Regions from separate parts of the Homo sapiens genome. Here all the other regions are linked to region 1. The links come from fine-mapping of genetic effects on gene expression. A gene starts in region 1. Each other region holds a variant in brackets. All regions are shown on one strand. Distances are from middle to middle.

What was found. PIP is the estimated chance that this variant, and not a neighbour inherited with it, causes the effect. A credible set is the group of variants that fine-mapping cannot tell apart.
Region 2: its variant is the best candidate, but not a certain one, in a credible set for the expression of CTNNA1 in CD4 T cells (BLUEPRINT, PIP 0.75).
Region 3: its variant is the best candidate, but not a certain one, in a credible set for the expression of CTNNA1 in monocytes after triphosphate RNA (Kim-Hellmuth 2017, PIP 0.80).

Annotation. Positions count from the first base shown.
Region 1 is chr5:138,751,595-138,755,833 of GRCh38, reverse strand. It overlaps CTNNA1 (catenin alpha 1), which reads right to left and starts at 2,409. Exons shown (of 18, transcript NM_001903.5): 1 at 2,324-2,409. CTNNA1-AS1 (CTNNA1 antisense RNA 1) reads left to right here and starts at 1,910. Exons shown (of 2, transcript NR_134244.1): 1 at 1,910-2,311. RefSeq lists enhancers at 1,242-1,808, 1,809-2,376 and a silencer at 2,080-2,519.
Region 2 is chr5:138,934,891-138,939,129 of GRCh38, reverse strand. CTNNA1 (catenin alpha 1) reads right to left here. Exons shown (of 18, transcript NM_001903.5): 18 at 4,096-4,239. Among named protein-coding and RNA genes, the nearest start is that of LRRTM2, 62 kb to the right of the region's middle. The variant TTA/A (reference allele first, on the strand shown) is at 2,111.
Region 3 is chr5:138,856,321-138,860,559 of GRCh38, reverse strand. All of the region lies in intron 7 of CTNNA1 (catenin alpha 1), which reads right to left. Among named protein-coding and RNA genes, the nearest start is that of LRRTM2, 17 kb to the left of the region's middle. The variant A/GAAAAA (reference allele first, on the strand shown) is at 1,965.

The sequences.
Region 1 (4,239 bases):
AAAACCCGGGCAGGGCAGTTACCCTGGATCTCCACATCTGGTTCATGTCTCCAGAAGAGACAGGAGTCCCACTTTGGACACCTTGAGTTTGAGAAGCCTGGGACACCCAAAAAGCTTCCCAATGCACAGGTGACCATGTGGGTCAGGAGACACACCTGCACTCAAAGGCTTGGACTTTTAGCACATAAGGCTGATGACAGAAGAGACTGCACAGAGCAGTGATTCTCATCTTGGAGGAGGGTACCTCTCATCTCTAAGTCACTATATGAAATGAGATATCACTGATGGGAGTGAAGGTGATGCCACATCAGTGGTGTGGAGGACAAAGATACTTTGGAAAGAACCCTGGGTACGAGAGGAAAGAGTGAGGGCGAGGAAAAGAAAGAAACTGAGATGAGTCAAAAGGAAAAGAAAACCAGGAGAGTGATATCACAATTCCCCAAACTCCTATGCCCTTTTATGCTTCTCATGACTTTCTCCCTTCACTTAAAAAAAACTCGACTCATGTTTCATCCAGATCAAATGCCACCACCTCCTGAAAGCCTTTCTGGACTTACCCAAGTAAAACTTATTAGCCCCCTCTCCGTGCCTCTACAAGTTTCTTTTGTTGTTACTATTAGGTAAGATTTGACTCAGACAATAGTTTCATTAGTACTGTTAAGGCACTTACTGCAGTCCGCTCTGTACTACACCTGGGGTGTGTGTCTCCCCTATTACACTGTGAGCTCTTAGGTGGATTAAAAAATTATTCTTTCGCTGAATAAATATCCAGATGGGGTCAGGCACCCTGGCTCAGGCCTGTAATCACAACACTTTGGGAGGCTGAGGCAGGAGGACCACTTGAGCCCAGGAGTTCGAGACCAGCTTGGGCAAGACAGCGAGACACCATCTCTACCAAAAATACAAAAATTAGACGGATGTGGTGGCGCGTGCCTGTAGTCCCAACTACTTCGGAAGCCGAGGTGGGGGGATCACTTGAGCCCAGGAGACAGAAGCCGCAGTGAGTCATGATCGTGTCACTGCGCTCCAGCCCGGGCGACGGAGACCCCGTCTTTAAAAAAAATGTTTGTTCAAAAGTCCAGATTGGTAAATAATTAGGCAGAAACTATAGGTAACTCCTACACTCATTCTTCATTCTTCCTGTAAAACAAAATAACACATCCTAATTAATTCGATTTATAAATTCCGTTCCTTAAAGTAACACCCACCTGTCCAGTATTTAAAAATCACTGCTGACTAAACACAAATATTCGCTCCACAAAATGCCTATCCTGTCCCAACAATGATGTAAGCATTTCCTTCATCATAAATATAAAATGCCCCGAATTTAGTCGTAGACTTGACATATCTCGCTCTTTTCCAAATAATTGTAAATTCTGTACAAAACACACGCACCAAAAAAATGTCACCAAGATGCAAGAGGACGTAAGAGGGAGTCAACCTTGGAACTGGGCCAACCGCCGCCTGCATTACTGGGAAGCCACTGCTGCCAAGCAAAGGTCAGGCATTCATTCAGGCAACATTTTTTCCAACAAGTGCTTCACACTCGCACGCACACACACGCTCCTTTAAAAGTCAACAACAATTAAAAAAAAAAAAAAACCTCTCTAATGCCACTCCTGAAAACTAGGGCTGAAAGCTAAGTGCGTCCAACCGACAAGAAACCCAGGAAAGCTGAGTAATCCCCGAGTCCAAGTGGACGGTCACGCCAAAAGTCCACACGGGTGTGGCCCACCTACGGCGAAGCTGTATGGGAGAAGCCCGGGCTCCAGCCTCCCGGTTCGCCGAGCCCGCGTCCCCGCCGCCCCATCGGGAAGTCTCAGCGGCCGGGAAGGGGGAGGGGGCAGGAACGCCTCGGAGCCGGACGACAATCACTTCCCGGGAAAGCGGCTCCCAGACAAGCCGCCCCAGGGAAGGAAGGCGGCCGAGGGGCCCGGCGCGGGGCTGCCGCGCGCGCCGAGGCCGCGGTAACAAAGTTTGGAAACCGCGAGAAAACTTTTCCAAGAGGAAACGCGGCGGCGGCGCTGGGCCTATAGTTTCTCCTCCCCAGCCCAGGCGGCCCCCCGACTTCCCGAGCGCTGGGAAGCGCCGGCCGTGCCCGCCCGGGCCCCATACTCGGGCCCTGCGGGGGAAGGGACCGCCGGCCCGACGCGGGTCCCACGCCCGCCCGGGGCCCAATTCCCGGCGACGTCGCCAAAGAAACCGCGCCCCGCCCGCTCGCCCGCCCGCGGCTCGCGGGGCCCAGCTTGGGACGGCCCGGCCCAAGGACCCTCTCGGCCTGGCCCGAGAGACCGCGCCCGCGAGGAGGGAGGTACGAAGTTACCTGCGGCTAGCTGGGCGAGCGCTAAATTCCAGAGGCCCGAAGCAGACGGGCGCTGCTTTGTCTCCCTCCAGTCCGGCTAGGAGGAGGAAATGGGCCGCCCCACGCCCCCGCCCCCGGCCCGCCCCCCGCCCGCGGCCCCCGCCCCTGTCCCGGCCCCGCCCGCCCTTCCTGGCACCTCCCTCCGACTCGCTCTTCCCGGCGCCTCCCGCCGCCGCCCCGCCCGCTCCTCCCGGCCGTTCCGGCCTCCGCTTTTGGGGAAAGGGAAGGCCCCCACCGCGAAGAGAGTCTGGCAACGCCGGACCGGGACCCCCGAGGGACCTCTTCCTCCCCGCCGCCCACCTCAGAATTCCTTCCTCCCCGGCCCCTAGTGGGAGCTTAGGCCGGGAGTGACCCCTGAGAGGGAGGAGGAGCGGTGACTCCTGGAACAGCCCGCGGGCGGAGAGGGCTGCGCGAGGGCAGGTGAGTCACCGCTCCGCGCACAGGTGAGGCTCAGGGGCGGCCTCGCGCGGGCCCCCACCCCGGCGGAATCCCAGAGACGCGACCAGGGGTACTGGGCACGCTCCCCTCAAGAGTGTCACAGGTGTCCCGGAGTCACAGTCTTCTGGAAAAGTGATCTAGGCCAACTACCTGGCTTTACAGAAGGAGAAGCGGAGGCTAAGGAAAGGCCCCACAGCTTCGGGACACAGTGGAACTAGAATCTGACTCTCAGGACCTTTCATAATGTGAGGTGGAAGCGCCCCTAGAATTCACCTAACCCGTCCCCTCACTCCACAGATGGAAACACCCGAAGCCCTCTTGATCAAGGACTTTTTTTTTTTTTTAAGACGGGGTCTCCCTCTGTCGCCCAGGCTGGGGTGGAGTGTCGCGATCACGGCCCACTGCAGCCTCAAATCCCTGGACAACCGACCCTCCCACCTCAGCCTCCGGAGTAGCTGGAACTACAGACACAGAGTCTCACTATGTTGCCAGGCTGGTCTCAAACTCATGGGCTCAAGAAATCCTCCTCAGCCTCCCAAAGTGCTGGGATTACAGGCTAGAGCCACCTTGCGGGGAGGACATTTACAAACACAAAAGAGGCACCGCAGCAGCTGTCCCTTTTTGGGCTTGTTCCCGCCCCGCCCCCAGCACGTCCCCCCTCCCAGCTTGTCCCCCTCCTCCAACAAATTTGAGGGACCTGACTTCTATCTCTATTCCTCTGGTCATTTGGGGCATTTTATTCTTACCCTTTCTTATCTTCATAGTGAATACTCCAAAAACAAAAGAAAACAAAATTACAAAGCAAACAAACAACACAAAAAAACAAAAACTACTACATGCTCACTATCATCCTGGTATAGAAAACCCTAATGATGTTTCCCCTGCTCACGGGATGATGAATAAGATAGATTTCAGTATTGGCCTATAAACCTGAATAATGCAAGACGACGATGTCCACTGCTGGCCTTGTGCTGAATAGAGAGCAGGGTGCTAGGGAGACCTGCCCTTACCGTGTTTACCCTCTACTCCTCACATCTCCCTCTCCCCCAAGGGAATATAAACTTCTGGAAAGCAGGAGCTGTATCTCCTGCAGCACCCAGCACATTGCCCATCCCCTAGGGAGTGCCTAGTGAACATCTGTGGGTGAATGTGCCCACTGTAATTCAAAGTACTGTGGGCCTGTGCTAGTTAACAGATGCTGACAAAGGGCAATAGGACCATGAAGTGGGGAGAGAACAACCTTTAAGAAAAAGAGGATGGGCACAGTGGCTCACACAAGTAATCCCAGCACTTTGGGAGGCCAAGATGGGTGGATCACATGAGCTCAGGAGACCAGCCTGGGCAAAATGATAGAACCCTTGTCTACAAAAAAATACAAAAACATAGCTGGGTGTAGTGGCACCTACCTGTAGTCCCAGCTACTTGGGAGGCTGAGGTGG
Region 2 (4,239 bases), 180 kb before region 1:
AAAGAGCAGATTTCACTGTGTGTAAATTTTCACCTAAGTTATAATAGCAACTCATCCTTTCCTAATGACATTTTACCACAATCGGTCCAATTGTCTGGGTGATAGAAGGATGCATCACGGCGCGCTCCTGGGCTTCTCTAACCAACTCCACGTTTTCGCACTGCCAGCCCGTGGCTCGAAATCTGATGTGGTGGGAGCATTTACCCATGGAAATTGGGAAACGCTACAGATCAAAGGTGAATTTGTTATGTTAATAATGCCAATTAAATGTAAATGTGTGTTATCTATAGCAGTTACATCGTCAGTAGCACAAAAAAAAATGGAAGAAATTGTCAAAGTAGTTAACAACTATTATCTGACTCAGCAAGGAAGTCACTCACTGACAAAGTGAAAGTCCAACATAGGTTTTTGTTGTTTCACTTTCATTTATTCCTTAAGGTAAACACAAATATCAAGCAGCATTCCTGTTGGAACTAGTCTCGTTTGTCAGTTACAACCATAGGTTGGCCGTGGATGCAAGAGTCTGGCAAAAATCAATGAAAGCCTTCTGTGGGAATCAGCTGGCTGGCTGGGATTCCCAGTTAGAGTCCTGTACGTCTCCTTTTGTGAATGGTGTGCTGCAATTCCTTTATAGCGGTCCCGTGTTTTCTAAATGCACAGATGTGCATCTGTTCGCATCCTCCCTGGCCTGGCCCTAGAGAGCCGGTGGCTCAACATTGACCAGCAAGCCCCTGCTGGGTGTCACTGAACATGGAGAGGAGGCTCCAGATGGGAGCCCTGGAGCACCTCAATGTCAGGGGCCACGAGGAGAAGGAGCTGGTAAGGGAGACGAGGGACACGCATTGGTGACGGGCAGGGAACCGTGGGAATCGACAAGGTGTGAGAGGGAGGGAGTGGCCACTGGCATCACCATTACTCAGAGGGTCCAGGAGGGATGGCCCAAAGCTGGGGGCCCTGGAGGAAGTGCCTCTCAAAGCCGGGTGGCGGGGCCAGCCACTTGCCGCAGTGTGACTTCACCTCCCCTAGTCACTTCTTCAGCTGTGCAGCTGGAGATGCAGCAATGGCACTGACATCTCGGGTCGCACAGATGAAATGGGGTGACGAGAGTAAAGGCTGGACACAGGCTCTGAGGTGCCCAGCACGTGGCAGCTCCTTCTCTCTTGCTTCCGTGGGGAGGGGAGGAGGCCTTGTCCTGGGAGGAGGGTGGAAGAGGTTGGGGCTGGAAGCTGTGAGGATGAAGGCTGCAGAGTGAACTGTGGCCTTTGAAGGTGTTGCACAGGAGACACGGGAACCCCTGCAGGGCACTAAGCAGGCAGGGACCAGGACAGAGCCATCCTGGGAGAGGCATGGGTGCTGCTAGCCACAGGAGAGCAGGGGCTGTGTGCTGAGTGCAGGGAGTAGGGAGCAGGTCTGAGGGGTCACCAACGCAGGGTGACAGGCTGGGGAGGCACAGTGGGGTGGAGGGATCTGGGACTCGGCTTTGGTCCTTGGCTCTGTTCCCCCAACCCTCCTCTGATGAGGCATCAACAAGACTGCTGAGAGCAGGGGCCCGTCCTGGATGCGAAATCTCGGGATGCAGAGGGGAGGCAGTCCCCTTTGCAGATGGCACAGGGGCAGGAGCGAGCATAAAGGAGGCTGCAGGAAGGCCCCAAAGGCCCCGCACGCACAGGCAGTTCCCCTCCTGCTTGGCCCAGCTCTGTCGTGGTCTGTGAGGTGAGAGGAGGGGTCAGGACTTCGGGGCAGGGCCTCTGAGCCTCAGCCTCGGCTCTCCAGGCCCCTGGTGCCTTCTCATTTGCCAGCTTTTTGCCCTCTAACACCTTCTGATGGGTTGGTTTAAATCAATAATGGTCCACATTGTTCAACTACTATCTATCGAGCACATGCCAACAAGCCCTTTGCCTCTGATGAGGATGAGCAGAGCCAACACTGGCTATTCCCCATAGGTCAGTCCAGTGAGGGCTGGTGCCTGCGGTGCTGTGAGCCTTGGCAGAGGATGGAGGAGCCCAGGGAGCAAGGGATGGTGTGGGCTGCTTTCCCACTGAGGCACAAGGGAAGATGTTAAGAGATACATAAATGGACATTGGACTTTTTTTTTTTTTTTTTTTTTTTT[TTA/A]AGAGAGACAAAGTTTTGCCATGTTGCCCAGGCAGGTCCTGAACTCCTGGGCTCAAGCGATCCTCCCACCTCGGCCTTCCCGAGTGCTGGGACTACAGGCATGAGCCACCACACTTAGCCTGTCGGAGTCCTTTTGATAATAAGGTGACTTGAGGAGACAGGAAGGAAACACTAAAGCCAGCACAGGGTGTCCCGGGGCAAGTGCATTCCAGGCCAGGAAGCATACGAGGCAGGATGTGCTCGGCATGTTCAAGACTTCAGGGACACCAGGGGCAGATGGAGGATGGCAGAGAATGGTGAGAGGAGGCCAGAGCAGGCAAGAGGCCTTTAGGACTCTGGCTTTTACTGAGGGACATGGACGCCGTTGGAAGGTCTGAGCTCGGAATGACCTGAGCTGACCTGTCTTACAGGGACAACTTGTCTGTGGGGGACACTGGCAGGGAGGCTGGCTGTGGCCACCCACCGCCGGGCACTGGCAACCTCGTCCTTGCCTTCCACAGTGGACCGGCCTTGGTCTGTGTGACCCACAGAATACAGACATGATGGGGAATCACCCTCCATATCAGGTTTTAAGGGAACACCATGGCTTCCATCTGGACGCTGCTCGCAGATACCGCTCTGGGGAAGCCAGCTACTACCAAGCTGTGAGCTGCTCTGTGGAACGGGCCATGTGGCATGGAACTGAGGCCTTCTGTCAATAGCCACGCGAGTGAGTCTGGAAGCAAATCCTCGCCAGGTCAAGCCTTCAGAGACGGCAGCCTTAGCTGGCATCTTGGCCACTTCATGAGACCCCGAGTCACAGCCATCCAGCTGAGCTGCTCCCAGATTCTTGACCTTCAGGAGCCGTGTGAGGTCGCTTTGGCTGCAACTTGCTACACAGCAGTAACAGCAGGATGGCTTAGGCCAGGCGGTAACAGGTAAATTGTGCATACATTTTAAAGATCAGAATTTTGATTTGTCACTAGAAGCCCATTGTGCTACAGATCCACCTCAGAATTTTTATTTTTAGGCATTTGGCAAGAGGAAGGGGGGGAGGGGCAGTGACGTGGGGAAAACGGTATGGAGGGTGTGGGGGTGGGCGGTGGCGAGTAGAGGTGGCAAGCAGTTTGGACAGGTCAAGTCTGAGAGATTCATTAGACATCCGAATGGAGCGTGAGGCGGCAGTCAGTTATAAAAGCCAGGCTCTGGGGAGAAGAAGTCGGCATTTGGATGTCTTTACATGCGAGATTCTGGCTGAGCTCAGGAGAGTGGGCACAGACACAACCTCTCAGCCCCAGGAAAGGAGAAGGAGCCCCCAGTAAGGCAGGCAGAACCTGAGCGGGGTGTCCTGGAAGCCGAGTGAGCAGCGTTCAGGAGTCCTTGTCCTCCTCCTCCTCCCCGCCACGCCCCCAGGCCGCTTGCACAGTGAGGTCTCAAGACAATTGCCAGTGTGGCTGGCAGTGGAAGGCAGTCACCTTGACGAGGGGAGGTGGAGGGAGCAAGGTGACAGCTGACTGTAAGTGAGGAAGGGGAGAAAATGTCAACAAGCTTCTCTTTAGGGAACCTTGCTTAGGGTGGGGATGCCAGCTGGGAAGGATCATGGGGTTAAGGATGGTTTTCATCTCGAAGGCCACTATCAATCAATCATCATAGCTTGGTATGTATGTGTGACGGGAAGGATGCAGAAGGGATATGCTGACAGAAGGACGCAGGAGAGGGGTCAGCTATAATGAAGACAGGGATGCCTCCGAGGTTGACATGAACCTCAAGGAATGGACATGTGAATTCCCAAGGTGGGGGTGCAGGGTGGGGCACTCAATAGGACAACGGGCATGGCCCTCCCTGATGGGTTGGCACGAGCCGTGCAGCCTAGAGCCACAGACAGTTTCCCTCCCGGGCATCCCCATCCTGGAAGAGACGGACACCGGGAGGGCCCAGAGCACCACAGATACTGCGGGCAAATCTATGACTTGAAGGCAGAGAAGACGACTTTGGGCTCTTGGATGTCGTGGTTTCATAGTGGACTTTATTGGGAAAAGTTAGTTAGTGTAAAAAACATTCAAATTAATTCATAAAATTTAAATAAGGTGATAGTAAATTATACCTTGTAGTTAATAGTAATCAATCAATCAATCACTACAGTAATCA
Region 3 (4,239 bases), 100 kb before region 1:
TGCGTCATTGCACTCCAGAGATAGAGCAAGACTCCGTATCAAAACAAAACAAAACAAAACAAACAAAAAAAACCAAACCCTGCCAGTCTAAGATTTGTCTATTATTCCACATGAAAATCTAACAGCAGGTGGTCAGGAATTTTCTTAGTTTTGATGCAGCATTCCTAAAGTGTCAAAAAAAATTACAGTGCATAAGTGGTACCATTTAGACACTCAATTTGTGCTTGCTTTGAATTAGATGTGTGTTGAATCAGATAGATTATGAAGAACAGGACAAACTATAAACGGTTTATCTGAAGTTCAGCTGACACTCCCACCAAATCCATTACCCTAATTTATAACTAGAATTATTAAACAAATATATTTCCAGTAAAAACATAAATCACTGGCTTTCCAAAAACAATAATCAGTATTTTGATTTATTCATCAATTATTTCAGTATCAGAGGTACCACATTGGAAAATAATATTTTTAAGATCTCACCTTTCAAATATTTTATATCAATCTTTAAACACACACACACAATCTTTAAACACACACACACACGCATGCACACGCACACCACACCCCGCCCTCAGTTTAAATTGAGAAGGGAGTCTGGGGATTAGATATACTTATGAAAGGTTAGACTTCTGTTTTTTGTTTAGTTGTTGAGACTGGGTCTTGCTCTGTTGCCCAGACTGGAATGCAGAGTTGCAGTTTTGGCTTTCTGCAACCTCTGCCTCCTGGGCTCAAGCGATTCTCCCACCTCAGCCTCCCAAGTAGCTGCGACTACAGGTGCATGGCACCACACCTGCCTAATTTTTGTATTTATTGTAGAGATGGGGTTTTGCCATGTTGCCCAGGCTGGTCTCAAACTCCTGGGCTCAAGCGACCCTAAAGTGCTGGGATTACAGGCGTGAGCCACTGCTCTGAGCCCTGTTATTTGTAACTAGCATTTTAACTAACTGAATACCAAGAAAAGATTAAGAAGACTATTAAGTGGAACACATTAGGAAAGTGGGGGATGCAGAACAATTAAGATTCAATATATGACATGTTAAAGTTAGAATGTTTATTAGTCGTCCAAGTAGAGATGACAAGTCCAGGGGAATGGTCCAGGCTGGAAACATAAATTTAGAAGTCATCATCCGTGAATACAGGTATTTAAAGTCACTAGCCTAGATGAGATCACCAAGGGAATGGGTGTAGATGGGAGATGAGACTCACAGAACCATCCTTTCCTCCTAAACCAGTCTGAGAAATCTTTAAACAATACCTGTAAAATGGCAGTCACGGAAAAAAAAGGATAGGTTTCAAGGGAAGCATTCCCTCAACATCAAAGCCACTTGAACAAGTCATGTGCTATTGGAAAACAAATAGGAATATGGTCAGCTTAATTCATGAAAATGACTGGAAACGACATATCAAAGGAATTTTTAATCAATGAAGAATACACATGTATACCATTTAGGAATTCAGAATGATGACTACAATAACAAGCCCATCAATCATACTATGCTCCATGCCAAGTAAGCTGGCAAATAAGCTGGAGATGGCCCTGTTCTCAAGTCAATGTAATAAACTGAAGAACCAATGAAAGTTCACGAACAATCAGAAAAGCAGGGGTTAATTCTGAGGGGCATGTAGAACTCATGTACTTGAACTACAAGAGAGCCAAAGGCTGGGCCCAGTGGCTCACGCCTGTAATCCCAGCACCCTGGGAGGCCGAGGCAGGCGGATCACTTGAGGTCAGGAGTTCAGACCAACAATGGCCAAAGTGGTGAAACCCTGTCTCTACTAAAAATACAAACAAAATTAGCTGGGCGTGGTGGCAGGTGCCTGTAATCCCAGCTACTTGGGAGGCTGAGACAGGAGAATTGCTTGAATGCGGGAGGCGGAGGTTGCAGTGAGCCAAGATCATGCCACTGCACTCCAGCCTGGGTGACAGAATAAGACTCTGTCTCAAAAAAAAAAAAAAAAAA[A/GAAAAA]GAAAAAGAAAAAGAAAAAAAAGCCAAATATTCAACTAAAAGGGTATTACATAATTTTATCTTGATAGAGGCTTGGGTTACAAGGTATGTGCCTTTATCGAAATTCACCAATAGCACACTTAAGATTTGTACATTTCAGTATGTATAAAACTTACCTTTAAAAATACTGGGACAGGCGCAGGAGCTCATACCTATAATCCTAGCACTTTGGGAAGCCAAGGTGGGAGGATCACTCGAGCCCAGGAGTTCAAGATCAGCCTGGGCAACATGGCAAGACCCTGTCTCTATAAAAAATAAAAAAATTAACCAGGTATGGTGGTGCATACCCGTGCTGCTAGCTACTCAGGAGGCTGAGGTGGGAGGACTGCTGGAGCCCACGAGTTCAAGGCTATAGTGAGCAGTGTTAACATCACTGCATTTCAGCCTGGGCAACAGAGCAAGAACCTGTCTCAAAAAAAAAAAAAAAATTTTTTTTAACTCTAATTAATGACACATATGGGACAGTGTTTAGAGGTGAATGTACAAGTGTCTGCAACTGAATTTGAAATGCATCAAAACAGTAAGATGGATACAGGGATGGCTAAATATGTCTCAAAGGAAATATTTAAACATTTAATAGAATCTAAGAAGTGGATTCATATGTGGGTGGTTCACTGTATAATTCTTTCAGCTTCCCTACATGCGTAATTTTCAAAATAAAATGTCTGAAAGGGAATTACAATTGTAAGTTATGGTACTGTCAATCTAATATACTATTAATTTCAACTAGTCCTTACAGTGTTGCACAGTGGTTAAGGGCTCAAATTCTGGAGCCAGGCTGGGTTCAAAGTATAGCACCTCTACTTACTAGCTATGGGACCTTGTATAAATCATTTAACCTTTATGCATTAACAGTACCATGCTTCATGCTTTGATGGTTAAATACAAATGGACAGTGCCACTAATATTACTGATATTTAGAAAATAGGAAGGCACTTAAGAATGCAGTGGTAGGCTCACATCTGTAATGCCAGTACTTTGGGAGGCCGAGGTGGGAGGACTGCTTGAGGCCAGGAGTTGGAGACCACCCTGGGCAGCATAGCAAGACCCCATCTCTATTTAAAAAAATTTTTTTTTTTAACGAATGCAGTGGATAAATGAGCTTTGAGCTTGGTACAAAAGGAACAGCAGGATTTCAATATGGCTGGGTACAGAGAAGGCCAGAGCCAGTAATCTGAGACATGATGCCCATTAATAGTGAAGTTACTCTGGGCTTGGCCAAAGTAGGACCAAATAACAAGAAGCCTCTGGGGCTAGGAAGGGAGCTTAGATTTAACATGGTTGACAAGAGCAGTCACTCCAGATTTCTGAAGACGGCTAGGATATGATGACCAAAGCAGTGACTTAGAGAGATGTATTCTGGCAATTTTTCTTGTTTTGCAGAGAAAAATCTGTAACTTCCACTATTAGAAAAAGGCTGTTAAGGGAGATAAAGAAAAAAGGAAAGAAATTTATTTAAAGGGCAGGCAAAGGGTAAGAACCAATGGTCAGGTGAAAAAGAACATGACTCCCTCCAAGAGAAATGGGCAGCAGACTGGGGCATGAGGGAAAAACATGAGAGAAATCATTCATTCACCAGAATGTACTAAAGACAGCCTTGGAGTTCCCATGACAACTTTCAAGTGTTCATTATTAATCTCTAGTCTAAAACTATTTTCTGAAAAGATACACAATTTCTCTCTAAAATACTTCCATATTTACAACTTTCTTTTCAAATCTCAATAAGGATTTCATCTCATGAATTAGGCACAGAAAGGTCCAGTTTCTACCTTGTAGTAGAGGGAAACACTCTTGCTTGAGTCCAATTTACCCTAGTAAAATCCACCCTTCTGCCAATCTTAGTCATGTACTCTTAAAAGCTTTAAACAATAATTTCTAGCTCCCTAACATGGTGCAAATATTAAACAGAAATGCAGGCCAGGCACAGTGGCTCCTGTCTGTAATACCAGCCCTTTGGGAGTCCAACACAGGAGGATCATTTGAGGCCAGGAGTTTGAGACCAGCCTGGGCAACACGACGAGACCCCATTATTACAAAGAATTTAAAAATTAGCCGAGTGTGGTAACACACACCTGTAGTCCCAGCTACTTGGGTGGTGAGGTGGGAGATCACTTGAGCCTGGGAGTTTAAAACTTTGGTAAGCTATGATCACGGCCACTACACTCCAGCCTAGGTAACAGAGTGAGACCCTGTCTGTTTTATTCTTTAAAAAAAAGGAAAAGAAAGAAATGCACCA